3 separate regions of the Homo sapiens genome follow, and all the other regions are linked to region 3. The links come from fine-mapping of genetic effects on gene expression. A gene starts in region 3. Each other region holds a variant in brackets. All regions are shown on one strand. Distances are from middle to middle. Region 1 holds the start of LOC105372508 (a long non-coding RNA gene). Region 2 overlaps DNAAF9 (dynein axonemal assembly factor 9). Region 3 holds the start of DNAAF9 (dynein axonemal assembly factor 9).

Region 1 (10,515 bases), 23 kb before region 3:
GTATCAGTTGAGCCCAAGAGTTCGAGGTTACAGTGAGCTATGATCATGTCACTGTACTTCAACCTGGGTAACAGAGAGAGACTCTGTCTCAAAACAACAACCACCACAATAAATAAATAAAACAACCAACAATGGTATTTTATTTTATTATTATTTTTCTTAATAGAGACAAGATCCTGCTATGTTGCCCAGGCTGGTCTCGAACTTATGGGCTCAAGCAATCCTCCCACCTCAGCCTCCCAAAATGTTGGGATTACAGGCGTGAGCCACTGCACCTGGCCAACACCAAAAATTTTAAAGGGGGTAGAAAAGAGGGCCAGGTGAGGTGGCTCACACCCGTAATCCCAGCACTTTGGGAGGCTGAGGTGGGTGGATCACTTGAGGTCAGGAGTTCAAGACCAGCCTGGCCAACATGGCAAAAACCCATCTCTACTAAAAATACAAAAATTAGCCAGGCGTCCTGATGCCCATCTGTAATCACAGCCACTTGGGAGGCTGAGGCAGGAGAATTGCTTGAACTTGGAAGTCAGAGGTTGCAGTGAACCAAGATGGCATCACTGCACTCCAGACTGGGCAAGAAAGTGAGACTCCATCTCAAAAAAAAAAAAGAAAAGAAAGCTCTTCTTCATAAAAGAATGCCAAATTGTGAATGTAGATGGAATGATAGAAATGGAAAAATCATCATTTTATGACCAGTCTATTAATAATTGATTCAGGCAGGCATCATCAATGGAATGTAAAACTATTAGGATAAAGGGGGTTGGGAAAAATGATATTCATAAGGTTTGAATGTATCACCCTACAGGCTGTTTAGTAATCGCAAAAGGGAAAACGTATCTTTACCACAGAGAGAGCTGAAGGTCACCACGTTGACCATCAGATTACACTTAGCATCACCATCAACGTGAAAATTGACTGGTGTGTTGCACTGAGAAGACACAACATCACTTAATGTTTCTACCAATAATCTAAACCCAGATTTATTTTTAAGAAAATCAGGTTGGCCAGGTGCGGTGCCTTATGCCTGTAATCCCAGCTACCTGGGGAGGCAGGAGAACCGCTTGAACCCATGAGGCAGAGGTTGCAGTGAGCCGAGGTTGCGCCACTACACTCCAGTCTGGGCCACAGAGCGAGACTCCGTCTCAAAAAAAAAAAGAAAGAAAGAAAGAAAGAAAATCAGGCCGTTATGATGTCATCTTGATTTTAAATACAAAGGCTTAGTCAGTGCACATGATCAACACTTTGAACTTTCAGTTCCCTTCTACCACAGCCTCCTATATGTTCTAGAAGTGTCTAAGGGAGACTCTTGTGCAGTGCTCTCAGAATCTTCCATTCTCCCTCTGGAAATGTCACCTGCCAGGCCTCTGTTGTATGAAAAGAGTTAGCATGGCCTCTTATGTTTTTGCAAAGTGCTTCCAATGCCAAGGTTACTCTATGCTGAAATATGCCTTGAAGCCACTTTCTTACATTATGATCCCAAAGGGACCACTTTAGACTTCCAGCATCTCACCAAGATTTTTATGTGACCATCATCCAGTTTATGTCATTAGTCCTTAGGACTGAGAAGTGGGTCCAGGGTGGCTTACAGGGGAAAGTGGCTTAGTCAGTATTGTCTTGCTGGTCTTGCTCTCTGGGGCATGGGATTCTTATTCCAAGCACCCATCCAGTCACGTAGCTCACGCTGGAACTCTCATCAGCCCATTGATATCTTGGAGTTTAACACAAGGAAGTATTGCACAAGACAAGCCAGAGACCCATGGACATAATGGCTGCCAAAGCAGAGAAGGGGAGGTGACAGATTTAGGAGACAGCAGCCGCCCTCACCCTCACTGTCCTCTCTGTTCCTCCTCTTTCCTTGGAAAACAGGCCTTCCTGGGGACCTCCTGCTCCCCTCAGTTATCCAGACTCTACCTGTCTTTTGTTTATACTAATGATAGCATGCTAGGTACAGTGTTCTCCATCTTGCTTTTTTCATTTAATATTTTTTTTTTTGAGACAGGATCTTGTTCTGTCACCAGGGCTGGGGTGCAATGGCACCAACACAACCCACTGTAGCCTCGACCTCCCAGGCTCAAGCAATTCTCTTGCCTCAACCTCCTGAGCAGCTGGGATTATAGGTATGTGACACCATGCCCAGCTATTTTTTAAAAAATTTTTTGTAGAGACAGGGTCTTGTTATGTTGATGAGGCTGGTCTTGAACTCCTGGGCTCAAGCAATCCATGTGCCTTGGCCTCCCAAAGTACTGGGATTACAGGTGTGAGCCACTACACTCAGCTCAACATTTTTTATATGTACAATTTGTTCATATCCTTTATCTTTGTCTTTTATATCTTTAAGAGAACTCTTTACCACCTTTTTAGTGAGGTTTCTGGAGAGGGTGGAAATGAGTATTTTCTATCCACCACAAGGTTTCCTTGGAGTTTACAAGTATATGTTGATATCCCCTGAAAATCTAGATAATTTTGTCTCCTCTTTTCCAATTCCATACTTCAAATCTTTAAAGATTTAAAGACTAGGTGTAGTGGCTCACACCTGTAATTCCAACTCTGTGAGAGGATCACTTGAGCCCAGGAGGTCAAGGTTGCAATGAGCCGTGATCATGCCACTGCATTCCAGCCTGGGTGACAGAACAAGACCTTGTCTCAAAAAGCAAGCAAGCAGGCAAACAAACAAACAAAACACGCTTATTATGGAAAAGAAGGGGGCAGAAGCCAAACTAGGGAGAGGAAGAAGTTAAACTGTGATGCAGGCCTAATAAAGCTTCAGCCAACACGGCAGGGAGTTTTTGAGTGAGAATTGCTCATTAAAGTGTCCCATGTTGACCCCAAAGAGGGAGGTCTTTATGCCTCCACCCGACTCAGTCATTGCACACTGGCTACCTTTGGAGGGACTGACCACATTCTCTGCAGCCAGGCAGCAAGTTCTTCCCTGAAGGGAGATCTGGGCCGCATATCTCTATGTCTATCACAACTTATCCATTCCATCAAGGTGGTGGGGAGGATTTGATATATTGCAGGGGATAAGCAAAGAGGAATTTTTTTTTTTGCAGCTTTGGACATTCACAATGGAGTTTTACTGCAAATCAATAGGCTCCAAAGCAAGATGTTGTCAAGAGGAAAATCGTTTTCTAAATTCCTTTAGTTTTCATTTGACATATGAAGACTCTGAGGTTGGAGCATTTCTTCCATAGTGTGCTTTCAAAACCTAGGCCTAGGCCTGAGGGTATGATGGAGAAGAAAATGAGGGAGAGGTAGCAGAGAATGACTATGGAATACATGGGCCCTAGTCTCTCTGTTCTAGACTGAATCATGAAGAAGCAGAGGTAGTTTGATAATTCAACTGGGCTTCAAGGGCAGGAGGCATTTGATCTATTCCATATTTGGGATTCTGGAAGGAGGCCACCATGTAGAATGGCCCTGCTTGAATCCAGTTAAGAGTAATGTGCAGAATGGTTAAGCAGGGTTACAGCCTCGACTGGCCTCCTGTTATGATCCTTGGTAGAGCAAATGCTGAGAGTCAGTAGGTCTGTCCTGGGGCCGCAGAGGGTGCTGAGTGGACTGATCAGCATGGACGGGAACAGAGGGGGCAGAACCAGGACTCAGAGGTGTCCACAAGGCAAGCGAAAGCCAATGAGAGGCTAAGTCATCAGACCCAGCTCAAACAGAAAAAGATGGATCTCCTCAGTGACAGACGTCAGCAAGTAGGAGCTAGACACATAAACCCACCTCTCCTTGTTCATCCAGACACCCTCTGAAAATGGGACAAGTATAAAAACCCAAAGATCTGAGTATTTGTTTGTTTATTTATTTATTTGAGACAGAGTCTCGCTCTGTCGCCCAGGCTGGAGTGCAGTGGCGCAGTCTCGGCTCACTGCAAGCTCCACCTCCTGGGTTCACACCATTCTCCTGCCTCAGCCTCCCGAGTAGCTGGGACTACAGGCACTGGCCACCACACCCAGCTAATTTTTTGTATTTTTAGTAGAGACGGGGTTTCACCGTGTTAGCCAGGATGGTCCCGATCTCCTGACCTCGTGATCCACCCGCCTCGGCCTCCCAAAGTGCTGGGATTACAGGCATGAGCCACCGCGTCTGGCCCTGAGTATTTATTTTTAAAAGACTCTACTAGTCATGCTTCTCCTGCATAACTACATCGAAATAAAAGGACTTACAACAAGCGTTGATTCTCTACTCATAGGTTGCAGGTTCAGCTGTGGGGCTCTGGCTTCAACTAGAATCAGCTGGGCTTGGCTCAAGGCTGTGAGCGGGATTCAAGTCCACTCCACAAGTCTTCTCATTCTAGGACCGGCAGTGACTGTGACATGCTCTTTATATAACAGAAGATGGGATTACAAGAGCCAAACCAAACCACGCAGGCACATTTTTAGCCTTGGCTCACATCACATCCACTAACATTCCATGGGCCAAAGTCAGTCTTAGAGCTAAGTTCAAAGTCAATGGGGTGGAAATGAATAATGTATATCAGGGAGGGAGTGAAGAATTGGGAACAATATCCAATCTACCACAGAGACTAGGCATTACCTAAAGGACTGACCAAATTTTAGCATTAGACTACGGTCGTTGGACAGGACTGAAACTTACTTTTTTTGCCTTGCTACCCAGTAACTGCGGACTTGTCTTGGGTCATGTTCTCTAGAAGCAGAGCCCAAGATGGGGATTCTTGTGTACATAATTTATGAAGAGTATGTTCTCAAGAGGAACATGTCAAGAAGTGAGACAAGT[G/A]TAGAAAATAGGAAGGAAGGGAGCAGGAATGAATCATATATATCAGGGAGGGAGTGAAGAATGTGGTTTCAGCTGGAATCTAGTCTGATCACGCAGGAAATTGGAATAAGAATTGTACTCCAGGGATGTCTCCCTTGAGTCAAGAGCTGGGCTTTTTGACCTTCTGTTGGTAAGTCATTGGCTGTCTTCCTCTCCCCTAGAACAGGTGTAACCTCCCCGACATTTCTTGGTAAGGTGACAGACAGCTGTAGACCAAGAACAGTTCTCTGGAGAAAGGGGAAGTTGTGATCCGAGAGCAACTAAAATTCACAACAGCTGGGGGTTGACACCCTGGCTGGTTAAGGCCATCTGGACAGGATGGCCTTAACACCAACAGACCGGTACCAGTCTGTGGCCTGTTAGGAAACGGGCCACACAGCAGGAGGTGAGTGTCAGGCGAGCGAGCATTACCGCCTGAGCTCCACCTCCTGTCGGCGGCATAGATTCTCATAGGAGTGCAAACCCTATTATGAACCGCGCATGAGAGAGATCTAGGTTGCGTGCTGTTTATGAGAATCTAATACCTGATGATCTGTCACTGTCTCCCATCACCCCCAGATGGGACCGTCTAGTTGCAGGAAAACAAGCTCAGGGCTCCCACTGATTCTACATTATGATGGGTCGTATAATTATTTCATTATATATTTCAATGTAATAATAATAGAAGTACAGTGCACAATAAACGTAATGTAATGTACTTGGATCATCCTGAAACCATCCCCCCACCCTGGTCTGTGGAAAAACTGTCCTCCAGGAAACCGATCCCTGGTGCTAAAAAGGTTAGGGACTTCTGTGCTATATATATGGCTCGTGAAAGACCAGACCAAAATTAAAGTACACACCCACAGCAAATACTGCTATTTCCTAATATCCATTCTTTCGTACTTTTTTTTTTTAATTATTTTTTTGAGACAGAGTCTCTCTCTGTCACCCAGGCTGGAGTGCAGTGGTGCTATCTCCACTCACTACAACCTCTGCCTCCCAGATTCAAGCGATTCTCCTGCCTCAGCCTTCCAAGTAGCTGGGATTACAGGTGCCCACCACCACACCCAGCTAATTTTTGTATTTTTAGTAGAGATGGGGTTTTGCCATGTTGGCCAGGCTGGTCGCAAACTCCTGACCTCGAGTGATCCGACTGTCTCTGCCTTCCAAAGTGCCAGGATTACAGGCACCCGCCGCCACACCCAGCTAATTTTTGTATTGTTAGTAGAGGTGGGGTTTTGCCATGTTGGCCAGGCTGGTCTCGAACTCCTGACCTCAAGTGATCCACCCATCTCAGCGTCCCAAAGTGCTGGGATTATGGGCGTGAGCCACTGTGCCCGGTCATTTCTCTCCTTCTTGTACCCAGAAGAAAAACAAACAAGATAGTTTAGCTGTCCAGAATCAAAACTACCTTTCTCAGACTCCCTTCTAACTAAGCAGGGCCATACATTTAGGTTCTAGACACCAGATGAAGGCAGACATATCACATGGAAGCTTCCGGGAATCTTCCTTAAGAGACAGCTGGTGTTACTCTTTGCCCCTTCTTTTCCCTTTCCTTCATCCTGCCGGCTTGAATGCAGGTGTAATGGCTGGGGCAGGAACGAAACTGTGAGGCGATCTGGAGAGTGAAGGCCAAAAGGGCCACAGTTCAAAGGGGGTCTGGTTCTGAGGTCACTGTGAACCCCAGTCACCACGCCTTCAACATGGAAAGGTACAATCTTCTACCTGCGTCAAATTACTGTTAATTAACTCTTACAAGGTAAAACTTATTCAGAGTAATGTAATCCTAACCAATCCAATATTTGAGACAGATTGAAAGTGAGTTTAAGAATGTGCTGCATATATTTTACCAAAACACCCTTTCGCAAAATTGTACCCATTTATACTCCATTTAGTAGATAGCAGTGTTCATTTCTCCACATTAGTTATTATTATTTTTTTTGGTTGGGTCAATTTTGTTTGTTTGTTTTCGGTGGAGTCTCACTCTGTTGCCCAGGCTGGAGTGCAGAACTCGGCTCACTGCAATCTCCGCCTCCTGGTTTCAAGCAATTCTCCTGCCTCAGCCTCCCAGGTAGCTGGGACTACAGGCATGAGCCACCATGCACAGCTAATATATATATATATATATTTTTTTTTTTTGGTATTTTTAGTAGAGACAGGGTTTCACCATGTTGGCCAGGCTGGTGTTGAACTCCTGACTTCAGGTGATCCACCCGCCTTGGCCAAAATGCTGGGATTAGAGGCGTGAGCCACCACGCCCGGCCTGGTTGGGTCAACTTAATAAGCAAAAAGGCAGCTCACTGCTGTTTCCATTTTCCTTCTCCTGGTGTCTAGTTAGGTTGTATGTATTTTCCTCTCTTCCTGAGCCATCTGTATTTCTTCCTCTATAAATTTATTAGGGAAACAGGAGCATAGGGGAGCCAGGGTGACACCGTTTAAAAATCAAATCCATTTTAAAACTAGCAAAGTACGGCTGTAATCCCAGCACTTTGGGAGGCTGAGGCGGGTGGATCACCTGAAGTCAGGAGTTCAACATCAGCCTGGCCAACATGATGAAACTCCGTCGCTACTAAAAATACAAAAATTAGCCAGACACTGTGGCGCACGCCCATAATCACAGCTACTCGTGACCAGCCTGGCTAACATGGCAAAACCCCAACTCTATTAAAAATACAAAAATTATCCGGGTGTGGTGGTGGGCGCCCGGCCGGTGGTCATAAGATGTTTACAGTTGAGGAAACAGCTTAAAAACGCTTTAAAATGGGCAGGGCGCAGTGGCTCAGGCCTGTAATCCAAGCACTTTGTGAGGCCTAGGCGGGCGGATCAAGAGGTCAATAGATCGAGACCATCCTATCCAACATAGTAAAACACCGTCTCTACCAAACATACAAAAATTAGCTGGGCATGGTGGCGTGCGCCTGTAGTCCCAGCTACTCAGGAGGCTGAGGCAGGAGAATTGCTTGAACCCAGGAGGCAGAGGTGGCAGTGAGCTGAGATTGCACCACTGCACTCCAACCTGGTGACAGAGAGAGACTCCGTCTCAAAAAAAAAAAAAGAAAGAAAGAAAGCTTTAAAATGCCTCGAATCACTGCAGCCTCGACCTCCTGGGCTCCAACTATCCTCCTGAGCATCTGGGACCACAGGCACATGCCACCATGCCAAGCTAATTTTGTATTTTTTTGCAAGGACAAACTCCTGCAATGGCAGAATGTACACACGTCCCAATATCACATAACAATATATTTTTTTAAGTGATGCACTAAAATGCCAAGGATAGCCTTCTTTAAATCAGCAAAGTACTAAATTTTGTCATGCTGTCAGCCCACCTGCACGTAACCATAATTTAGTTTACCTTTTACATAGACAAGACTCCTATATAAGAAGAGGTTAAAAGTAAGCACGTTCCTCCTGTTTCCTGAGAACCCCCAATTCTGTAAGAGTAGCTTTTAACAAATGGTCTTTTCTCACTGTCCTCTACAACTCACCCTGAATTCTTTCCCGCATGAGATCCAAGAACCCTCTCTTGGGGTCTGGATCAAGACCCTTTTTTAGCAACAAATTAGCTTTTTGTATCATTTGGCCATTTTTGATGGGGGTGTTTATATTTTTGTAGTGATTTAGAAGTACTCCTTTATTTGAAAAAGTTTAAATATGCTGATAAGAAAAAAGGCCAATATAACAAACACCTGGGTACCAATCATCCAAATGAACAAATGTTGATATTTTTGTCATATTTGTATCAAACCTGTTTTTAAGGAAATAAAAATTGAGGCCAGACATGGTGGCTCACGTCTGTAATCCCAACATGTTGGGAGGCTGAGATGGGAGGACTGCTTGAGCCCAGGAGTTCAAGACCAGCCTGGACAACATAGCAAGACTCCATCTCTACAAAAATTTTAAAAACTAGCCAGGTGTGGTGGTGCACACATGTAGTCCAAGCTGCTCGGAAGGCTGAGGTGAGAGGATTGTTTGAGTCTGGGAGGTTGCAGCTTCGGCGAGCTATGATTATACCACTGCACTCCAGCCTGGGCAACAGAGCAAGACCCTGTCTCTTAAAAACATTAATAAATAAAATTTAAATAATAAAAAATTGCAGATGAAAATGTACTTACTGAGTTCACCTTCCCAGTCTGAACAACCACTCATGGTTTTTATACCTTTGCTATGTACATAGTATTGTTTTGGTTATGTTTATTTTAATTTATATTAATGGTGTCAAATTATAAATATTCTTTTGTAGCTCATTAAACCCTGTGTTTCTAAGATTCAACCATATTCATTCATTTTAATTGTATAATATTACCTTGTATAACTCTTCCATGTTTGGTTTATGTTTCACATTTGAGACCCCCTTGATGGATATTAAATCCCTGCCCCCTGCCCCGCCCGCTCCCCACCAGTTTCACTATTACAAAGAACATGGATAAACATCTTTGGTTTTACTTCACATGTTTCCATATGCAAGAGCTTCTTTTTTTTTGAGACAGTATCTCAATCTGTCGCCCAAGCTAGAGTGCAGTGGCACAATCACAGATCACTGCAGTCTCGACCTCCTGGGCTCCAACTATCCTCCTGAGCACCTGGGACCACAGGCACATGTCACCACGCCAAGCTAATTTTGTATTTTTTTGCAGAGATAAGATTTCCTGATGTTACCCAGGCTAGTCTCGAACTGCTGACCTCAAGCAATCTGCCTGCCTTGGCCTCTCAAAGTGCTGGGGTTACAGGCGTGAGCCACCATGCCCAGCTGAGAGTTTCTTTGGACGTGGAATTTCTGGGTTTTAGGGACATATATGTATCTTTTTAATTTTTTTTTGAGACAGGGTCTTGCTATGTTTCCTAGGCTGCTAGTCTCTAGCAGCTCTCTAACTCTGGGCTCAAGCAATCCTCCTGCCTCAGCATCCCAAAATGCTAGGATTATGGGCATGAGCCACCATATCCAGCCAATGTATCTTCTACTTCACATATTATAAAATTGCTGTCCAAAGCGGTTATACCAATTTATACTTTCCACAGAAGTGTATGAGAGTTCCCATTCCATATCCTGGCAATATTAAATAATATCTCAAGCTTAAAATTCTTTTCTCAAATTAATGGATATAATGGTATCTCTTTTTTTTTTAATTTTTTTCAGACAGTCTTGCTCTGTCGCCCAGGCTGGAGTGCAGTGGCGCAATCACGGCTCACTGCAACCTCTGCCTCCCAGATTCAAGCGATTCTCCTGCCTCAGCCTCCCGAGTAGCTGGGATTACAGGCATCTGCCACCACACTCAACTAATTTTGTATTTTTAGTAGAGACAGGGTTTCACCATGTTGGTCAGGCTGGTCCCGAACTCCTGACCTCGTGATCCACTGGCCTCAGCCTCCCAAAGTGCTGGGATTACAGGCATGAGCCACCGTGCCTGGCCGGCATCTCATTGTTTTTAACTTGTCTTTTCCCTCATTGTTAATGATATTGAGCATATTTACATACGTTGAGTTTCTTCATCTGTGAATTGCCTATCCTAATTCTTTTTTTAATGAATTTTATTGTGAATATTTAAGATGTACAGCGTAATGTTATGAGATACATGTATATATAGATAGTAAAATATTTATCATAGTGAAACCAATTAACGTAGCCATCATCTCACATAGTTACCCATTTTTCCCACAGTGGCAAGAGCAACTATACTCTGCACATTTAGCAAAAATCCTGATAAAATAAATTACTAATTGTCGTCCTCAGCTAGGCGCAAATGCTCATGCCTGTAA
Region 2 (10,515 bases), 160 kb after region 3:
CTGGGGCCACTTGCTCTGCCCCACTGATAAGGCACACCCGCGGTGCACTGTGAGCTCTTTGAGGACTGAGGCCAGGGGATGCCTCCTGGAACCTGCCAGGCCTCTCTGTTCTGTGAAGGTCAGTATCCACTTGATTCCTCCAGGCGGCGCTCCAGGTGGGAGGAGCAGGGTCTTCTGCTGTTTCCAAAGGAATGGCCATGACACTGCTTTTGACCTTAGAAGTGGATCCAGGGACCCAGCAAAGAGCGGGGGTGGGTTCCCAGGGACAGGCAGTCCTCCCGGGGCTTACATGCTTTTTGCTAACTTTCCTATTAGCAGCTTCAGTTTATATCACCCAGAGTGCGTGGGATAATGTTGAAGTCGCTGAAGTTACGGGTTATTTTATGTTTTTACATGGGATTTTTCTGTTTTTGATTGGAAGAAGGAGACAGAAATTGGAGGAAATGGGATTATTATCCTAGGGAAGGGCCGTTGGCAAGGAGTTGAGCCGGCCCCTCTGAGCCCTGGGGGCTATCTGACCTGAAGCCTGGACACTGGGCCCTTCAGGTCGCAAGAAAAAGTTCCCTCCTAAATTCTATTAGGATTTTGGAGAATTTTTGCACAGTAAGAAGCTCTGGGTTGCTCCTTGGGCTTCTCAAAAGGGAAAAGTTCAATTCAAAGATTGTAAACTACGAAGTATTCCAGCCGTGTTGCTGATCTAGTTGGATAGTTGTACCTCAAAAAAGTAGGTGAGAACTGGCTTCCTCATTGTCCCAGGATGTCAAATACTAATGACATAAGAGCTCACTTACGTGCCAAAATTCACTTTTATACTAGTTTTTCAGTGCTTTAATATTTGTAACTTAAATTTTAAAACTCGTATTTACAAACACTACTGTAACTTCAGTGAAACTGAATTGTGCGATTGAAGCTTTTTGCTTATCATAGTATTTATTACACTACTTAATTCAGTAAATATATAAAAGTAGCCTTCAATTTATTTTTATATTATTTTACATGTTTTTACCTGCAGTTGTGTATGTGAATTTACCTTGGTAATCGAGATGTCATGCTAAGGACCAATAAACTATCACTGAACAAGCAAGGCCTCCAGACGATGCCTGTGCCATACACTCAGTCCCGTGTGCTCCTGGGGCGGGGGTGACGGGGGCCGGCCCTCAGCCTCCCCTGGACGCCTCTGGTGGGGATGCTGCGGGAAGTCCTCGGAGCTCACACTCCCTCCCTAGACGCCGGAGCAGCCCGTGGAGAGTAAGAATAAAATTCATCTGAAGAAACCACACTGGCTTGCGGGGTGGGAACTTGGGGAGTCCCAGAACTTGGGGAGGGGCTCAAGGAAGCCGGCTATGGGAACGGGGCTCTCCCGGCCCACCCGTGTCCCTCACCCTCGTCTTAGTCCGCCGTGCACGGGTGCCGGTTCTCGGCCCCAGCCTGCCGCGGCCGAGCTGTAGTAGGAACCACGCCTTTCCAGCCTGATGGGCGCGTTTCCGCGCAGTGAAAGCTTGGCGAGGTGGCTCCTCGGTCCTACTTTATACATGGGGACGACTGGAGGCGCTGACGGGTCAAGTAAGGGCCAGATTTGGCGCTGCGCGTTGGAACCGCAAGTTCTAACGGGGGGGTTTGCCGGAGCCCGCGGAGCTCTAGAGGAGCGACCAGAAAGGCATCAGCTGTCCCCGTGCAAGCTCGGGTTCCACTCGCCAGGCGGTTCCTGCCGCACGTGGCGCGGGCCTCCCACCTGACCACACCCCGGGCCCCCGCTGGCCGCGCAGGGAGGTGAGGAAAAGGGGCGCCCGCCGCCAGTCCATAGACACCCTGCTTCCTGTCAACCAGTCGCTGGGTGGGACAAGGGGAAATGCCCCACTGGGCAGATGTGGAAGCTGGCCCGGGGGAAAGGGTGTAGCCTCCGCAGATAGCTTCAGGTGATTGGGATGGTGGTCTTAGGTTTGGAAGTTCCTTGAGATAAATTAGTCCTGTGCAAACCAAATGCAAATCTGCACGGGAAGGGCCTGGTAGACTTGGGGGAGGGGGCTGGCGGCAGTGTTACCCTTTCACAACCTCTTCCCCAGAGCCTCCGGCATCCCCATCCTGCAGGCCGGGGTTTGAACTTTGATGGAGCGCCTGCGGTTGCATTACGGCAAAACCTCTAGGGTTTGGGGATTAACCCCTAGGAATTGCCAGAACGATGGGGAGACAGTAAATGGTGAAGGGCTCTCAGAGGGACTTAGAGGCCAGGAAACCTGAGGATGGGGAAAGGATCCCATCTTCCACCTGGAGCTCTCAGTAGGGACAGGGGACTACTGAAACCCTAGTGCTGCTTACCAGAGTGGGAGCCCCAGAGTCAGGGAATCCTGGCAGAGTCGATTGTGAAAAGTGATTTAGAGCAGATCTCATGTGGAGCTGCTGAAAATCAGAGAGCCCGCCAAGGAACACAGAGAAACACCAGTGTTAATCTCTATCCTACACTCTAGGGAAAAGTTATACCCAAAGAAGACATGACCATGTGACCCACTTCCAGCCCATGACAGAAAGAGATCAGCTTGGTTTCTGCAGGAGTCCAGACTAGTACCAGCTACAGGTCAGCCAGGCGCAGGCACTAGTATGTCATCAGAACCCTCTATCTTCGGTGGCTTCATTCTTCCCCTGCAGCAAGCTTCCCTTACACCACCAGCAGCACCAGGGTCCCATAGGCAAGGATCACATTCTCATCCCTGAATAATTACCATGGTCAGGAGGAATGGAGTTTTCTGATTAGCCTGGCCTTGGGTCTCCATACCAGGCCCATCTGAGAGGTGGGCCCCCCACAGAACGGCTTGCTCCCCTAAACCAGCATTACGCATCTCCCTGCAGTTTCTGAGCTTTTCTGATAAGTCAGACACCTACTTGATTTTTATTATTATTATTTTTTTTTTTGGATACAGTCTCGCTCTGTCGCCCAGGCTGGAGTGCAGCAGCGAGATCTCGGCTCACTGCAACCTCCACCCCCTGGGTTCAAGAGATTCTGCTGCCTCAGCCTCCCGGGTAGCTGGGATTATAGGCACATGCCACCACACCCAACTTTTTTTTTTTTTTTTTGTATTTTTACTAGAGGAGGGGTTTCACTATGTTGAGAAGGCTGGTCTTGAACTCCTGACTTCAAGTGATCCACCAGCCTTAGCCTCCCAAACTGCTGGGATTACAGGCATAAGCCACCACACCTGGCTTTTTTTTTTTTTTTTTTTTTTTTTTTTTTAAGACAGAGTCTCACTCTGTTGTCCAGGCTGGAGTGCAGTGGTGCAATTATAGCTCACTGCAGCCTCAACCTCCTGGGGCTCAGGTAATCTCCCATCTCAGCTTCTTGAGTAGCTAGGACTACATGCATGTGCCACCTCACCCAGCTAACCTACATTTTTTTTTTTAAACAGAGTCTCACTCTGTAGCCTAGGCTATAGATCACAGCTCACTGCAGCCTCAACCTCCCTGGGTTCAGGTCATCCTCCCCACTCAGCCTCCCGAATAGCTGGGACTCCAGGTGCACACCACTATGCTGGGCCAAATTTTGCATTTTTTGTAGAGATGTTATCTATGTTGCCCAGGCAGGTTTCAAACTCTTGGGCTCAAGTCATCCTCCTGCCTTGGCCTCCCAAAGTGCTATGTTACAGGAGTAAGCCACTGCACCCAGCCCATTGTTTGGTTTTATAGTGCCTCAGCACAACCCAGGGATACCAGTGATCATGGGATCCTGTCTGAGAATCTATTTTTCTTAAACAAAAGAAAGGTCAAAAAAAAGAAAAAAGAGAAAAAGACAGGTCATGTAGAGCCAGGCACGGTGCCTCACACCTGTAATCCCAGCACTTTGGGAGGCCAAGGCAGGCGCATCACTTGAGGTCAGGAGTTCTAGACCAGCCTGGCCAACATGGTGAAACCCTGTCTCTACTAAAAATACAAAAATTAGCCGGGCGTGGTGGCAGGTGCCTATAATCCTAGCTACTCGCGGGGGCCGAGGCAGGAGAATCACTTGAACCCGGGAGGCGGAGGTTGCAGTGAGGCGAGATCGTGCCATCACACTCCAGCCTGGGCGACAGAGCGAGGTTTCATCTCAAAAAAAAAAAAAAAAAAAAAAAAAACGCCGGAGGTGGTGGCTCACACCTGTAATCCCAGCACTTTGGGAGGCCAAGGTGGGTGGATCACGAGGTCAGGGGTTCAAGACCAGCCTGACCAACATGGTGAAACCCTGTCTCTACTAAAAATACAAAAATTAGCTGGGCGTGGTGGCGGGCACCTGTAATCCCAGCTCCTCAGGAGGCTGAGGCAGGAGAATTGCTTGAACCTGGGAGGTGGAGGTTGCAGTGAGCCTAGATGGTGCCACTGCCCTCCAGCCTGGGTGGCAGAGCGAGACTCCTTCTCAAAAAAAAAAAAAAAAAAGAAGAAAGAAAGGTCATATAGACTGTGATGTGGGGAATGGGCTGCTGCTCCACGTGGGTGGAGGTGAGAAGTGGACCAACTGGAGAGCCATTTTGAAGGAACAATTGACAAGACCATGACTAACTAGGCAACAGCTAAGGAGATGACCTCGAGGTAAAAGTGGAAAAAGCCCAAGTGGAAAAAACCCAACGTTTTGAAACAAATCCAAATACTTTTTTTGTTTCATCTCTAAAAATTTGATGAAAAATAAATTTGTTTATCCACAAATTATTCCTGTTTTTCCCAGGCCTCTGCATTCCTAAATTGACCAGCTAAAAGAGTTTGGTTTTTTAAAAAATTACATCAGATTCAATAAATTTTATGTCCTACTCATAAATGACTGTAAATCTGTAAAATATATTTATATATATATTAACCAAATAAAGTGTGAATAATTTTCATTTTATCCCACAAATTACTACTGCTTTTCCTGCAGCAATAAAGTGTGATTTTTGTTTTCCTCTCATGACTGGACATGTTTAAGAAACTTTTCATCTCTACTCTGAAATTTCATGCCTGGATGAATGTACAAATAGAGAAATAAGGACAACAGGAACTGGAAAGATGGTTTGATAAGATTATTTCAGTTTGAGACAAAATTCATGGAATTTTCTAGCTACGAAAACTCCATTCCAGCTTATTTGTTTTATAGATAACAACGATCAGAGATCTAAAGAGGCTGGAGGTCTTGCTCCAGGGTGTTGCCCTGGGCCTCCCCACCACCTCTCTCTTCCCTGTGCCTCCAAATTCCTGGGAGGAGTTGGGGCTGGAGAGGAGGGTGACCTGGATGGGGTCTCAGGCCACATCAGCCCCCAATGGTGACATCCAGGCCCCTGAGCAGGATGGGGACCAGCGAGGAGAGCCATGGGTGAGGAAGACATGAGGGACACAGATTGGCCAAGGATGGCCAGGAGGTGACAGTCTACCCAGAGAACCTTAGGGTCACCAGGTAGAATTCTTCCTTGGGTAGCAGGTGATGGGATTTTGATGGAGTAGGGCCTGGGGGTAGGTGAGGGTGGGGAAGGAAGCCAGTGTTTGGTTGTGAGAGGCTGGGCTGTGGAGGGCAGAGAGGCCTGACAGGAGGGCAGTGGGGCAGCCCCAGAATCTTCCTGCCCAGTGGTCTGCTGCATGCCTGCCACAAGACCTTGACAGTCTGTATGCCTGGAATTCATGAGCTCTTAGAATCAGTGAGCCAAGAGCCCTAGCCCACTCCTGCCCATGCTAGCTTTGGACTGTGAGTATGGACTGAGGGGCGGGGCAGACAGATGCCATCCTGAGGGTAGCAGGTCCTTGTTGACCCTCTGCAGGGCAGGGGCTCCTTGCCCTCCTGGATGCCCTTATGTTATAGTAGCCTGGATCTTTCTCTCAGTAGGGGTAGATGGCAACTGAGAGAGGGCTTATTGCTGTGTTTGTTGAGCACCAAAGGGTTGTCCTTCCACCTACCCAAGGGGCCGGGAGATGCCCCCCAGGAAAGAGAGGAGGCCAGTGGAGGCTATGTTCCCCCTCCCAGCACCCTGCAGCATTACCAGGACAACCAGTCTCATGCTGGGCTCCCACGGATAGAAAGCAAAAGCTGACGGGACAGGAAGAGTTATGGCGTGGGGGAAGACAGTCTAAACAAAGATTGAGATCTCTTGAAGCCAGGTGTTCAGGACCAGCCTGGGCAACACAGCAAGGCCGTCTTTTCCAAAAATTTTGAAAATAAAAAAATTAGCCAGGCGTGATGACACCTGCTTGTAGTCTCACCTACTTGGGAGGCTGAAGTGGGAGGATGAGTTGAGCCCAGGAGGTCAAGGCTGCAGTGAGCTATGATTGCGCCACTGTAATCCAGCCTGGGTGACAGAGAAAGACCCTGTCTAAAAAAATTAAAAATATTTGGAGGGGAACAGGAGACTGGCATG[A/G]TTGTTGGGGTCCAGTTAGACCACCAGGGAGTATCAGGCAGTTGATTCAGTGGGCAGCTGAGCCCAGTCACTTGGCCTGGTTCAGAGCTGGACATAGGGCTCCCATAAATAACTAACCATTACAGATGACAAGTCCTCAATCATAGAGAGAGAGCGTGGGAACAGCACCTCTCCTCCCCAGGAACAGCGAGGAGGCGGAGCAGCTGCAGCTGGAGAAGGGCTACCAGAGGCTGAGAACACCGGTCAAGGCAGCGGGAGCCCCAAGAGGCTGGTAAAATCCCAGTGACTTCAGAGAGAGCGGCTGGCTGCGAGGTATGGGAAGCCATGCCTGCCAAGGGTCCAAGGAAGGCTATGGCAGCCAGGATGCTGCAGACCCGAGGTAGAAATAAAAGGACTCAGCTGAGTGCCGTGGCTCACACCTGTAATCGCAATTTGGGAGGCCGAAGTGCGCAGATTGCGGGAACCTGGGAGGTTGAGGCTGCAGTGAGCAGTGGTCTCACCACTGCACTCCAGCCTGGGCGACACAGCAAGCCCCTGTCTTAATGAATAAATAAATATAAAAAAATAAAAATAAGGCTGGGCACGGTGGCTCACACCTGTAATCCCAGCACTTTGGGAGGCTGAGGTGGGAAGATCGCTTGAGCCCAGGAGCTTGAGACCAGCCTGGGCAACATGGTGAGATCCCCATCTCTACAAAAATTAAAAAAAAAAAAATGCCAGGCACAGTGGCTCATGCCTGTAATCCCAGCACTTTGGGAGGCCGAGGCAGTGGATCACCTCAGGCCAGGAGTTCAAGACCAGCCTAGCCAACATGGCAAAACCCCCTCTACCAAAAATACAAAAATTAGCCAGGCATGGCAGGCGGATCATGAGGTCAGGAAATTGAGACCATCCTGGCTAACAGGGTGAAATCCCATCTCTACTAAAAGTACAAAAAATTAGCCGGGCATGGTGGCTGGTGCCTGTAGTCCCAGCTACTCGGGAGGCTGAGGCAGGAGAATGGCGTGAACCCAGGAGGTGGAGCTTGCAGTGAGCCGAGATGGCGCCGCTGCACTCCAGCCTGGGCAACAGTGCAAAACTGTTTCAAAAAAAAAAAAAAAAAAAAAATTAGCCAGGCATGGTGGTGCATGACTGTAATCCCAGCTCCTGGGGAGGCTGAGGCGGGAGAATCACTTGAACCTGGGAGACGGAGGTTGCAGTAAGCCAAGATTGCATCGCTGCACTCCAGCCTGTGAGACAGAGTGAGACCCCATTTCTCTCAAAAAAAAAAAAAAAAAAAATTAGCCAGGCACAGTGGTGCACACCTGTAGTCCCAGCTGATGTGGGAGGATCGCCTGAGGCCAGGAGATCGAGGCTACAGTGAGCCGTGTTTGTGCCACTGCACTCCAGCCTGGGTGGCAGAGTGAGACTCTGCCTCAACAAAATAAAAATCAAAGAAATAAAATGACTCAGTGAAATGTGGCCATCCAGGGTGAGAGGAAGGAGGCAGAGGGGAGTCGGGAGTATCTGGCTGGGATGCCCATTAGGCTAGACCAGAAAGCCTGAGTGGAATGGAGGATGGAGGATGGAGAAGAGAGCTTCGGGAGGGCGTCATAGGCCTGAAATGCCTCCATGGAGATATCTGCCTTTAACATTCCTTTGGGTTTTTTGTTTGTTTTGAGATGGGTGGGTCTCCCTATGTTGCCCAAGCTGGTCTCAACACTCCTGGGCTCAAGGGATCCTCCCATCTCATCCTCCCTAGTAGCTGGGATTATAGGTATGTGCCACCGCACCTGGTTTACTTTTTGTTTTTTGTTTTGTTTTGTTTGTTTGTTTTTGAGATGGAGTCTCAGCAGTTTCAGTGGTGTGGTGGGGACAAAAGACAGGTATGAGTCGGTTGAAGAGACATAGCGGGAGGGGCATGGAGCTCTGGAGAAACTTCCTCTTAAATGTAGCTGAGGGATAAGGCAGCACCCGGAGGGCAAGGGGCTTTAAGGGAAATTTTTTTTTTTTTTTTTTTGAGATGGAGTCTCGCTCCGTCGCCTGGGCTGGAGTGCAGTGGCACGATCTCGGATCACTGCAACTTCCACCTGCCGGGTTCAAGCAACTCTCCTGCCTCAGCTTCCCGAGTAGCTGGGACTACAGGCATGCGCCTCTATGCCCAGCTAATTTTTTTGTATTTTTAGTAGAGAGGGGGTTTTAGCATGTTGGTTTGCCAGGATGATCTCCATCTCTGGACTTTGTGATCTGCCCACTTCGGCCTCCCAAAGTGCTGGGATTACAGGCGTGAGCCACCGCGCCCGGCCGGGGAATGTTTTGTTTTTAAAATGAGCCCTTTTTTTTTTGAGATAGGGTTTCTCTCTGTCACCACGGCTGGAGTGCAGTGATGCAGTCTTGGCTCACTGCAGCCTTGACCTCCCTGGCTCAAACAATTCTCCCACACCAGCCTGCTGAGTGGCTGGGACCACAGGCGTATGCCACCATGCCTGGCTAAGTTTTTGTAATTTTAGTAGAGACGGGGTTTCACCGTGTTGCCCAGGCTGGTCTCGAATTCCTGAGCTTGAGCAATCCTCTCACTTCTGCCTCCCGAAGTGCTGGGATTACAGGTGTGAGCCACCAAGCCCGGCCTAAAAATGAGATGTTATACATTTACTTCAGACCCCAGATTCTACAATCCACAGGCAAGATAAGTGGCATCAGGGGAGGACAGCAGAAAACTGTTAAGTGCGCCTTGTGGAACCCAGCGGTTACAGTTTCAAGTCCACAGCCCAGTAAAGTCTGAGACCCCAAGGGAGGGAATGAGAGGGAAAGTGGGTGCCTGCGTCTGGGTCCCTCAACCTGCCTGCCTATGTAAGGACCCAGTGGGGCACAGGACAGGAGATCTGGGGCACCAGTATTTGCCTTCAGCGTCAGACGATCTACACAGGACAGGAGGCAGGTGGGAGGACTGAAGGAAACAGCCTCTGAAACGGTCAGTCTGGAGGCAGCAGGCGTGTGGGCCTCAGGGGTTCCCTCCAGGAAGGCCGAGGGAACAGAACCGCAGGGGCAGAGCACAGGTGTAGCAGAGAAGGGCTCAGTGCCAGTTCCTTTGAGAGACGGTCAGGGAGCGGACAGAGGGGGCCCATAGCCGACTAGGGGCGGCTTGGTCATGGGCTCCTCTTTCCTCAGTGGGCTGAGGGGTTAGGTCCTTTGAGGAGCGCTGAGGAGACTGTGGTAAGGGGAAGCGCCCTCCATCCCAGAGGCTTTCCTGGAACAAGTGGGTTGGAAGGACCAGGTGTTTGGGAGCTGCTGGGAGCAGGTGCAGAAGCCAAGGCATTCCCAGATGGGGGAGACTGGGGGTGGCAAGGTGGCTTTTCAGGGATCCAGCCTGCATGCCACCTATGCAGCCATGCTCCGGGGGCGACATCCGCCTGTGTCCTTCAGCTCTTCCTCAGCCTCCACCCGCCACCCGGGAGTCAGTGCCTGGACTGGAGCTCTAGCTGGAGGGCGTCTAGGAAAGGTCCCAAGGGGTGCGCAGGATGACCTGGTGTCTCTCCAGAGTCACCCCTGCTAAAATACTATGTGGCCAGCCCCAAGTCAGTTGCAGGTCATGGTGTTGGGATCTTCCACAAGGCCTCCTGGAGTCGCGCTGGGGGAGGGTGGGGTACTCAGTCTGTCGCAGAGCCCCAGGCCATCCGTCGCCAAGAGGAGCACTCCAGCGCTTCCCTCCTAATGCGTTCTTATCTTGCCGGGAGGAGAACTGGGCCAGCCTTACTCACCCAATCTATGCATGAGGCTTCCCCAACGCGCCAGAAGCCCTTCCTTCGCAGAGGTGGGCTTGCCCCGGCCTGTCCCCGTTCCTCTACCATGGTTAGGGCACAGTGGCCGAGGACTCCGTCCCAGCGCGGCTGAGCCGGAAAGCGATGGCGGCCGGAGGGGTCGGGAGGTTGGTTAGCGCTTTACGGAGCTGCGTGTTCCGTTTCCAAGGGCTGTAGAGCCTTCTACTGGGAGCCACCGTGGATCAGGCCAGGGGTTCGTCAGCTGCATTTGCCGGATCGCATCGCAGCACGCGCACCCACACGCGCACACGCCCTACTCGCAGGAGACTAAGCGCCCCGAAAAGGCGCGTCCCCGGGCGGGTCGCAGCCGGTCCAGGAAAGGGGACAGGGCGCAAGGGCCATTTGGGGAAGGAAAAAGGGGGCGAACCATGACCTTGACC
Region 3 (10,515 bases):
GTCAATAGCTTCCATAGCATCAGTCAAGCTTTACTTTAGTTTTGAATAAACATAGTGCGAGCATCTACCAATATTTTATTTGTATTTTTCCATCAAAAACTGTACAGTTTTTAATAACTCCTAATTCATTAGGAGAATCTCTGCAACAATTTGTTCATTTCTGAAATCTCATCTGGAAGGGATTTTACACAAAATAGCCCCATAAGCAAGCCTTTTTCACAAGGAAACTGTTGCACAGGCAAAGGAAAAGCTTTTCTTCACTGTGATTACTCACATCCATGGTTATGCTATAAAACAGCAAGGCATTTACAGCTTTGATAATCACTGCAACAGTAGTAAGTGGAGTCGTTACATCTCAAATTATTGCAGTAGATTTTGTCCTGGCATTTGAAAATTTGCTTGAAATATTGGCATTAGAAAATACTACTGGTAGCGGTATGTTCAAAGAGTGACTTGAGCTGAATGATGACAACAGACAGTATGGGAGGCCATTACAACTTTGCTGTGATTATCTTCTCAATCTGAATTTATCTTTAAAATTTGTCATTTTATCCATTCCTTTGGTACAAAAATCACACATCTTTTATGCTTAGCCGTTAGTATGTGCTGATGTATATCTGTCTTTCCACCATTTTCAATATTGAATAAATACTTGCATACCACATAAAGAGCTGCAAATGGATTTTCTCTCCTTTAATAAATGTACACTCTTCAGAAAATTTGTCATAAAATTCACTCTTGCAATTTGGCATTTGTGGATTCACATATACACAAATAAAGAAATAGATAACACAATCGATTTTCAACAAGGGTACCAAGACAATTCAATGGGGAAAAAAATAGTCTGTTCAACAAATGGTGCTGAGACAAGTGAATAGCCACATGGAAAAGAATCAAGTTGGATCCCTGCCTCACATCATATAGAAAAATTAATTTGGAATTAATCAAAGATCTAAAATGTAAGAGCCAAAATTATTAAACTCTTAGAAGAAAATGTAAGAGGTACGTCTTCATGACTTTGGATTAGGCAATAGTTTCCTAGTTATGACACATAGAGCACAAGCAACAAAAGAAAAAAATTGATAAACTGGATATCATTAAAATTTTAAAGTTTTGTGTTTCAAACAACAATATCAAGAATGTGAAAAGACAACCCACAGAATGGGATAAAATTTTTGCAAATTGTATTTCTGATAAGGTACTTATATCTAGACTATATAAAGAGCTACCACAACATAATAAAAGGACAAGTAACCAAGTAAAAATGGTCAAAAAATTCGAGCAGACATTCCTCCAAAGAAGAGGTATAGGCCAGGCACGGCGGCTCATGCCTGTAATCCCAGCACTTTGTGAGGCTGAGGTGGGCAGATCACCTGAGGTCGGGAGTTTGAGATCAGCCTGACCAACATGGAGAAACCCCGTCTCTACTAAAAATACAAAATTAGCTGGGCGCGGTGGCGCATGCCTGTAATCCCAGCTACTCGGGAGGCTGAGGCAGGAGAATCGCTTGAACCCGGGAGGCAGAGGTTGCGTTGAGCTGAGATCATGCCATTGCACTCCAGCCTGGGCAACAAGAGTGAAACTCCGTCTCAAAAAAAAAAAAAAAAAAAAAAAAAGGAGGAGGTCCAAATGGCTAATAAGCACATGAAGAGATGCTTGACATCATTAGCTATCAGGAAATATAAGCCAAAACCACAATGAGATACCACTTCATACCCTCTAAAATGGCTATAGTGAAAAAGATAATGAGTATTAGGGAAGATATGGAAAAATTAGAACCCACATATGATGCTGGTGAGAATATAAATGGTGCAGCCACTTTGGAAAACCGTTTGGCAGTTCCTCAAAAGGTTAAACGTAGAGTTACCATGTGATCCAGAAACCCACTCCTAGATCGCCAAGGAAACAAACTGTGTGTCCACAAAAAAACTTGTACACAAATGTTAATAATAGCATTAGCTACAAAACATAGCAAAACAGTGGAAACAATCTGACTGTTCATTAACAGATAAATGGATAAGCAAGATGTGGTATATCCATTCAATGTAATAATATTCAACCATGAAAAGGAACAAAATTCTGATACATGCTGCAACATGGATGAACCTTATAAACATTATGCTAAATGGAAGAAGCCAGTCATGAAAAACCATATATTGAATGATGCTGATAACATGAAATGTCCAGAATAGGCAAATTAAAAGGTTAGTGGTTGCCTAGGGCTGGGGTGGTTGGGAAGAAATGGAGGAATGACTGCTAATAGGTACAGGATTTTCCTGTTGGAGTGATAAAAATGTTCTAAAATTGATTGTGGTGGTGGTTGCACAAATCTGTGCCTATACTCATTGATTTTTTTTTTTTTTTTTGAGACAGGGTCTCACTCAGTCCCCCATGCTGGAGTGCAGTGGCCTGATCTTAACTCACTGCATCCTAGACCTCCCAGGCTCAAGCGATCCTCCCATCTCAGTCTCCTGAATAGCTGCGACTACAGACACATGCCACTATGCCTGGCCAATTTGTGTGTGTGTGCATATATGAAATATATTTGTATACATAAATTATAATATAAATATATATTTTTATAAATAAACTATATATATATAGAGAGAGAGAGACAGAGAGATGAGGTTTTGCCACGTTGCCCAGGCTGGTCTCAAACTCTTGGGCTCAAGAAATCCACTTGTCTTAGTCTCCCAAATTGCTGGGACTGCAGGCGTGCACCACCACGTGTAGCCCCGTTGAATTGTTTTTAGAGCTGATTTTCAGAGCTTTTGCACCGATGGGAAGTTATCTCTAAATAATGGTGGTTACTTGTTCATGACTCTGGACTTGAGCTAAAAAATTGATCACTGCAAGCATAGAAAGAATTGAAAGAGTTGTATTTGATAAATCTCATGACGGTGTCATAGCGTCTGTCATAAGTCCAAACTCATACCAAATAGTAACTGGGAATTGAATCTTGAGCTGTGAACTTTGAACTCGGACAAAACAATAAATTGAACTCAATATCTGATGCAAAAAAAAAGTGAATTTCTTCTCTGCTTGCAAGGGAGAGCGGTACTTGTAAGGTACAGCCTCTCTGAACAAAGCCAGAGCTGATCTTATAAAAGGTTTTGAAGGCCGGGCGCGGCTCACGCCTGTAATACCAGCACTTTGGGAGGCCAAGGCTGGCGATTCACTTGAGGCCAGGAGTTCAAGACCAGCCTGGCCAACATGGCGAAACTCTGTCTCTACTAAAAATACAAAAAATTAGCCAGGCTTGGTGGCACAGGCCTGTAATCCCAGCTACTTGGGAAGCTGAGGCACAAGAATCGCTTGAACCAGGAGGCAGAGGTTGCAGTGATCTGAGATCACGCCACTGCACTCCAGCCTGAGCAACAGAGTGCGACTCTGTCTCCAAAAAAAAAGGAGAAAAAGAAAAAAAAGGCCGGGCGCGATGGCTCAGGCCTGTAATCCCAGCACTTTGGGAGGCCAAGGCAGGCGGATCAACTGAGGTCAGGAGTTTGAGACCAGTCTGGCCAACATGGCAAAACCCGTCTCTACTAAAAATACAAAAATGAGCCAGGCGTGGTGGCGGGAGCCTGTAATCCCAGCTACTCGGTAGGCTGAGGTAGGAGAATCGCTTGAACCGGGAGGCAGAGGTTGCAGTGAGCCGAGATCGCGCCACTGCACTCCAGCCTGGGCGACAGAATGAGACTCAGTCTGGGAAAGAAAAAAAAATGGTTTTGGAAATATTCGCCTTCAGGGATTGGCTGTCTTTCCGAATCAGAAGTGGAGTGCGGCAGCTGAGTACCCACTGACTTTCGGAAGCCTGGTCGCTGGTGTCAGGCACTTGTTGATTGGCTATTGTCGGAGGCTTAGAGCGGTCACTGATTGGCTGACTTTCAGAAGCGTGGGGTTGTCATTGATTTACTAAGAAGCATAGTTACCGGAGTGAGGCTATCGCTGATTGGCTGATTTTCAGAGCTGCTGCACCGACGAGAAGTTATCTCTAAATAATGGTGGTTATTTGTTCACGACTCCGGACTTGAGCTAAAAAAGTATTTTCCTTTCTTGAATATGAAAGACGAGCACTTTAAATTCCTACTCCCTTCTGGTCTTCCCTCAGCCAAACCTGAAGGAGACACCATAGGGATTGTCCAAATCTTCATTAGTGTAGGAAGGATTTTCAGCCAGTGTTGTAATTTAAGTGATCTAGCACCAATTACTGTGGGAGAAAAATAGCTCTAATTATTGCAATTTAGTGTAAAAAGATGAATACAGGACATTTAAGGCATTCCGACGAGGTCAACGAAGGACGCAGGCCAATAATCATTAAATACGTCCTGTATATACAGGACTCCTGGCAACTATCAGTGCAGTATTTCCCAAGTTTCTTGTACATGTCCCTGCAGAAACCGGTAGAGCTAGGATCTTAACAGTAAAGGTTAGGGGTCTTCTGGGATCCTGTGCGCCTCTAACGCTCATGCCCTGCGCAGGGCTGGGTGCGCACTGCTGCGCTAACCCGAGGCCGGCTAGGAATCTATTGGATGTTTGAAGGGTGGGTGCGGAATTGATGACCAGGAAGCGGGAAGACACCGTTCCGGAGAACAGGGAAGCGAGCCGGGTACTGGGGAGGTGCGCTGGGTACTGGGGAGGTGCGCTGGATCCTGACGCCGGAGCGGAAGACTTCGCTGGAGGCCGGGGCTGGTCGGGCGGGGCGGGGCGGGCAGAGGCGGAGGGGCGGGGCCGGGCTGGGAGAGGCTCCGCCCCCGGGCGCGTCCGTGTGCGTGGCCGGGGGGCGCCGCGCAGAGCCCCGCTCTATGATGCCGGGCTTGAGGACGAGGCCGGGCGGCGCTGTGGCAACCCTCACCCTGCGGACACGCGCTCCCAACATCCGGTCCGGCGGCCTCGCAGCTTAAGAAGTGGGGTCCCTGTGGCCGTGCGCCGACCCCCAACTCCAGCCGCTCCCAACGCCCCCATCCGCTCTCGGTGCGCGCGCCCCCTCCACGCCCCCGCCCCCGCCCCCGCCGGGCCCGCGCGCCGCGCCCCCTCCCACCCGGCACGCCCTGCCGCCCCGCCCGGCCGCAGCTAGCGTGGAGCCGCCCTGCGGGCAACTGAGACCCTCGCAGCTGCACCGTCCTCCTCCGCCGCCAGTCGTCCGCCGCCATGGACGTGTACCCCCCGCGCCGGCAGGGGCTGCCCCGCGCTCGGTCCCCTGGCGGCTCCAGCCGCGGGTCACCCTCCGTCAGGTACGCGGGGCAGAGGCAGCCGAGGGGCGGCCGGGCGGGGGATGCGGGCTGTCGGGGTCCGGCGACGCCTCCCGCCGCAGGGCGTGGTCCGACATGGCTTCCTCGGGACGGTTCTTTGCTGAACGGCTCAGGGAGGAATTTTTCCCAGGAACGGCGCCCTCTGTAGAGGCCCCACAATGGCTCCCCTTTGGACAACCCCGCAACGGTTTCCCCACAATGGCTCCCCCACAGACAACCCTGCAACGGTTTCCCCACAATGGCTTCCCTAGGGACAGCGATTCCCTGTGAAGACACTGTTATGACGTCCTCACCCCCATAGAACGTTTCTCCCAGGAAGGATTCTTCTACACAGAACCCCACAGAGGCTTCCCTATGAATAACTCACTCGCCTTCCCCAGGGAATGTTTCCCTCAGAAACTGCTACTCTACAGACCTCACACCTCCACACACACAATAGCTCCCTCGTGTAGAACCCCCAAATGGATTACCTAGAAAGCCCCCTCCCGTGGGTCTCTAGAGCCTTTGCCCTTGACAACGGCTTCCTTAAAGAGTGTCCCCCGCCCCCTACGTACATAATGACAGCATCTCCCCTGTCGCGCGTTTCCCCAGCTCCCCCTGCCTCAGCCTGCATCGCGACGCCCCCTCACTCCACAATAGGGAGCTCGGGTTGGGAGGAAGTAGAGGTATTAGGGACGCAGGAGGAAAAACTGGATAAATAGGGGAAAGAGGCCTAGAACCTCCGAAAGCGGCGGACGCCAGGCCCCTTACCGTAGAGACACAGTCCCAAGCTACCTCAGTATGGGGAGGGGGTGATCGTGGGGAGCGTTCCCCGCCCCCTTTAGATATAGGAAGATCCGTTTCCGATTTCTGTGCCCTATGCGTTTGGTGCTGATCTTGTTGGTCTGGGCATTGTTTGTGATGGAGCTGGTGTGGGGCGCCGGCGCAGTGTGGAGGTTGGAATGATGGAGGGGTTGCAGCAGAGACCTTTGAGAAGGAGAGGGAGAGGGGGAATGCGAGCGATGAGCTTTGGTACTGCTAAACTGTCATTAAAACAGGAGAGGGTTTTGTTGTTGTTTGCTTTTTCTTATTCTAGCCACATAGCAAAGCAAATATATTGTTCCCTTGAAAGGAGGTTGCCAATCTACATGTTAAAACAGTTTTCTTATATTCTTGTTATGGTACTTAAGGCATATGTTTTAACTTTGCTTGCTGATCTGATTTTTGGGGTTGTTTGTTTGCTTTAACTAGACCAAATTATTGGAGAACAAGAAACTGATTCTTAGAAACCTGTTTCTTTTTTACTTCCCTGCATTCCTTTCCACAACCCAGAATCCAGTATATGTTTGTTGAACAAATAAAGGATAGAGAAGGTGGGGGGTAGATACCAATGAAACATTGCATTTAGGAGTCCTAAATTGCTTCGAATCTGTCAGGTGACATTTTTGAACTCCTGCTCTGCCCTTCAGTGTAATTCCTTGTGGGCTTTACAGTTCCAAGTTTAACTGCTTATAGTAACGCATCTCCAATCCTTTGCAACATTTCTGCCAGTTTCACTGTCTGAAGCAGAAAGTATTTGAACTTGTATAGACATTGCATAGGATACTTTAGAACAGCCATCCGTTAAATCTAGGCTCTGTGTGGACTTGAGGTTTATCCCAGATCATCTTGAGCTTAGGAATTTGGATTTGAGTCTGTTGAGATCTTTAGGGGGAAAAAAATCATCTCTACCTTAGAATCTGTCTCTTAAATGCTGCCTTTCTTGTTTTTAGTAGCATGGCCATGTGCTTTTTATTTATTCTTTTAAAGGTAGTGATTCTATGTTCAAAGAAGTATGCTGGCTCACTTTACTGATCATACCCGAACTCCAAATCTTCTATCAAGTGGTTTGAATAAAATTTGATTTCAGACAAGGAATAGTGCAAGGAACCCCAAGGCCTAGCTGCCCCCAATACCTTTGGTGAAAGAAATTTGCTGAAGGCTTCCCTCCTTTCCCCACTTCTACATGATTGAACGTGCTTTTCTTGCCCATTCAAGCCTTTCCCTTACTCTTGACATTGAATGTTACTAGCACTTTCCTGTCACCCATATATGGCTTTGCTGCTGACTGCTGAGTGATGGAAGGGGCAAACCTAACTGGTGAAGTGACATTCCTAAGACCCATAGATAGTACTCTGCAAGTGTATGGTTCTAGCACGGTAGTTCATTTTCACAGATGGAGAATGGAGATCAAGAATTAAAATATTGTTACTCAGAATGAGAGGCTTCTCTTTAAGCATGTGATAGTCATCAGTCTTACCAGGTATTTTTGGTTTCTGTCTCTTGAGCATGTAGTAGAATTTTACTTGCTTGCTTCTTTGAAGTTAGGTATGGCCTTAAGAGTTGCTTTTGGTCAGTGAAATGCGTGGGAATACTGTGTAGCCTTTCATGGTACAAATTTCTGTTGTGTAGTTTTCCATTCTCTTTCCTTCTGTCATGGTAGCTGTTGGGGCTGCAAATGGCAGCCACCCATCAGTCAAGGCCCCAGAGCTAGCTTCCAGGTGACCTATGCTTGACAGGTAGGTTGAGCAAGAAGTGAAACACCACCGGGATTTTGGACTTATTACCAAGGTATAAACTAACCTATCTGGATCAATGCTAAGGAACCAGTGGAAATCTAGCTGAAAGATACTTTCTACTTCAAAATGTTTTTCTGTAGAGCGATCTGTTCCTGCTTGAAACTTCTTTAATAGTTTAAATTTCACTGTTTATTTATATAAATTATGCAACAAGTACTCTGTTAGGTGCTGTAGAGTCAGATAAATACAGCAGTCCCCTGCCCTCAAATAACTCTTTTGTAAAGGGGAAGAGACAGTAACAGTAGAAATCATAATATAGAATAGTGAGTCATAAGTACTGAGGAAGAAATACGGCCGAAAGAACAATAATACAAGAAGGCCTAGTCGGTTTTTGCCTCAGCTATTGAAAGAATGGAGTTGCCATTTATTAGTATTAAGAACACTAGAAGAAGAAAAGGCAGTGTAGCAGTGTCTTCCAAGTTCTGAGAGAAAATGGTTTCCTACCTCTGAGGTGGGAGAATAATTGAGAACAGACATTGAAAGCCGAATGAGATTGTTGACAGTGTGATGAGAACTAGTAATCAGGCTGGGCACGGTGGCTCACGCCTGTAATCCCAGCACTTTGAGAGGCCAAGGTGGGTGGATCACCTGAGGTCAGGAGTTTGAGACCAGCCTGACCAACATGGTGAAACCCCACCTCTACTAAAAATACACACAAAAAAATTAGCTGGGCATGGTGGCAGGCACCTGTAGTCCCAGCTACTCGGGAGCCTGAGGCAGGAGAATCACCTGAACCTGGGAGGTGGAGGTTGCAGTGAGCCAAGATCTTGCCATTGCACTCCAGTGTGGGCAACAAGAGTGAAACTCCATCTCAAGAAAACAAAAGGACTAATAATAGACAATTAGATTCGATAATGTGGAGGGTCACTAGTGACCTTGACAAGAACAGTTTTGGTGCAGTGGGTTCAAGAGAAAATGAAGCCAGTCACCTGTAGGTCAGCTACTCGGAAGGCTGAGGTGGGAGGATCCCTTGAGTCCAGGAATTCAAGTCCAGTCTGGGCAACATAGCAAGACCCCTGTCTCTAAAAAACATAAATTGATTAATTTACAAAGCAGAAAATGAGAGGAGAATTGAAGACACTGAATATAGACAGTCATATTGATGTTCTTTTGAGGATGGTTATAAGGAGAGTAGAGTAATGGGGCTGTAGTTGGAAGATCATGAGGTGTCGAGTTCTTTTTGTTTTTATATGGGCAGATATTATAGCATGTTTGTAAATTGATGGGCTGATGCAGTAGGGAGGGACAATTGATGATTAAAGAGAAGTGACACTTGCAAGGGTGAAGTCCTTGAGTAGGTAAGATGGAATGGGATCTAGTATGTAAATGGGGATGTTGGCCTCAAGTTAGACAGGAGCAATGCCAACAATTCATTGGTGGCAGATTATGTGAACCCAAATGCTGGTAGCTTGTTGGTGGGAGAAAGTGGAAGTTCTCTTCTGATTACTTCTGTATTCTCAGGTAAATAAGAAGGAAGGTCTTCAGCTAAAAATGAAGAGAGGTGTTGGATTCATCCAAGAGAATGGGGAAGAATGAGTTGAAAATAAGGAAAAGTTTTAGGATTTCCAGGCAGCACCTAGTGCCCATTTGATGTTTGTAGTTGTAAACCTAGGTGAGACCCTACTTAGCATAGTTGTACACTTTTCCTGCAGCTGTGTTGAGCTGCTTGGATGTGGCAATGTGGAAGGGAATAGCTGAAGTAGGATGGAGGACACCACCATTGGAAGTGGGGGAATCAAGGCACTGAGAGGTAAAGATTGTGGTGAAGATTGAGGTTATCATAAATTAACAGAATGACCTAGGGACCTGTAGATGTCTGTAACAGGGAGAGATAGCAGGTAGTTATTGTTTGAAGACATGAAGAAATGATAAAAAAATAAATACATTCCTTAGAACCAAAGGACATACGTTTCCAGATTGAAAAGACTTGCGAAGAATCTAGCACAATGAATTTTAAAATATCCATGCCAGGACCACATGATCTCACTTATATGCGGTAGAATCTAAAAAAGTTGATCTTGGCCCTGGTGGGAGGATTGCTTGAGCCCAGGAGTTTGAGACCAGTCTGGGTAACATGTCGAGACCCCATCTTTACAAAGTTCAAAAAAAGAAAAATTAGCCAGGCGTGGTGGCATGCGCCTGTGATTCCAACTACTCAGGAGGCTGAGATGGGAGGATCATGTGAGCCAAGGAGGTCAAGGCTACAGCGAGCTGCGTTCATGCCACTGCACTCCAGCCTGGGCAACAGAGTGAGATCCTGTGTCAAGAAAAAAAAAAAAAGTTGATCTTATAGAAGTAGAGAGTAGAATGGTGGTAATTAGGATGTAGCGGGGATGGGGAGATGTTGATTGAAGGATATATAATTTTAGTTGGATAGGGGAATTAGTTTAAGAGATCTGTTATACAACATGGTAACTATAGTTAATGATTATATATTCTTGAAAAATGCAAACAGAGTGGATATTAAGTGTACTCATCAAAAAAAAACTATGTGAGGTGATGCATTTGTTAATTAGCTAGATTTAACTTTTCCGCAATGTATATATACTTCAAAACATCAGGTACACAAATACATATATATATCTGTCAATTTAAAATAAAAATATGCATGTCCTGGCATAGCATCATGAAATTTTCTAGCACCATGAAGACAATATCTGTAAGTCACA

What was found. PIP is the estimated chance that this variant, and not a neighbour inherited with it, causes the effect.
Region 1: its variant is the best candidate, but not a certain one, in a credible set for the expression of DNAAF9 in monocytes (Quach 2016, PIP 0.83).
Region 2: its variant is the best candidate, but not a certain one, in a credible set for the expression of DNAAF9 in lung (TOPMed, PIP 0.67).

Annotation. Positions count from the first base shown.
Region 1 is chr20:3,425,148-3,435,662 of GRCh38, reverse strand. It overlaps LOC105372508 (a long non-coding RNA gene), which reads left to right and starts at 4,807. Exons shown (of 3, transcript XR_937212.3): 1 at 4,807-4,909. The variant G/A (reference allele first, on the strand shown) is at 4,741.
Region 2 is chr20:3,239,871-3,250,385 of GRCh38, reverse strand. It overlaps DNAAF9 (dynein axonemal assembly factor 9), which reads left to right. Exons shown (of 37, transcript NM_001009984.3): 37 at 1-1,080. Among named protein-coding and RNA genes, the nearest start is that of SLC4A11, 5.9 kb to the right of the region's middle. RefSeq lists enhancers at 1-103, 763-1,507, 1,508-2,253. The variant A/G (reference allele first, on the strand shown) is at 6,339.
Region 3 is chr20:3,402,191-3,412,705 of GRCh38, reverse strand. DNAAF9 (dynein axonemal assembly factor 9) reads left to right here and starts at 5,037. Exons shown (of 37, transcript NM_001009984.3): 1 at 5,037-5,231. The coding sequence starts at 5,149. RefSeq lists enhancers at 3,636-4,137, 4,514-4,713 and silencers at 4,704-4,953, 4,994-5,233, 5,294-5,373.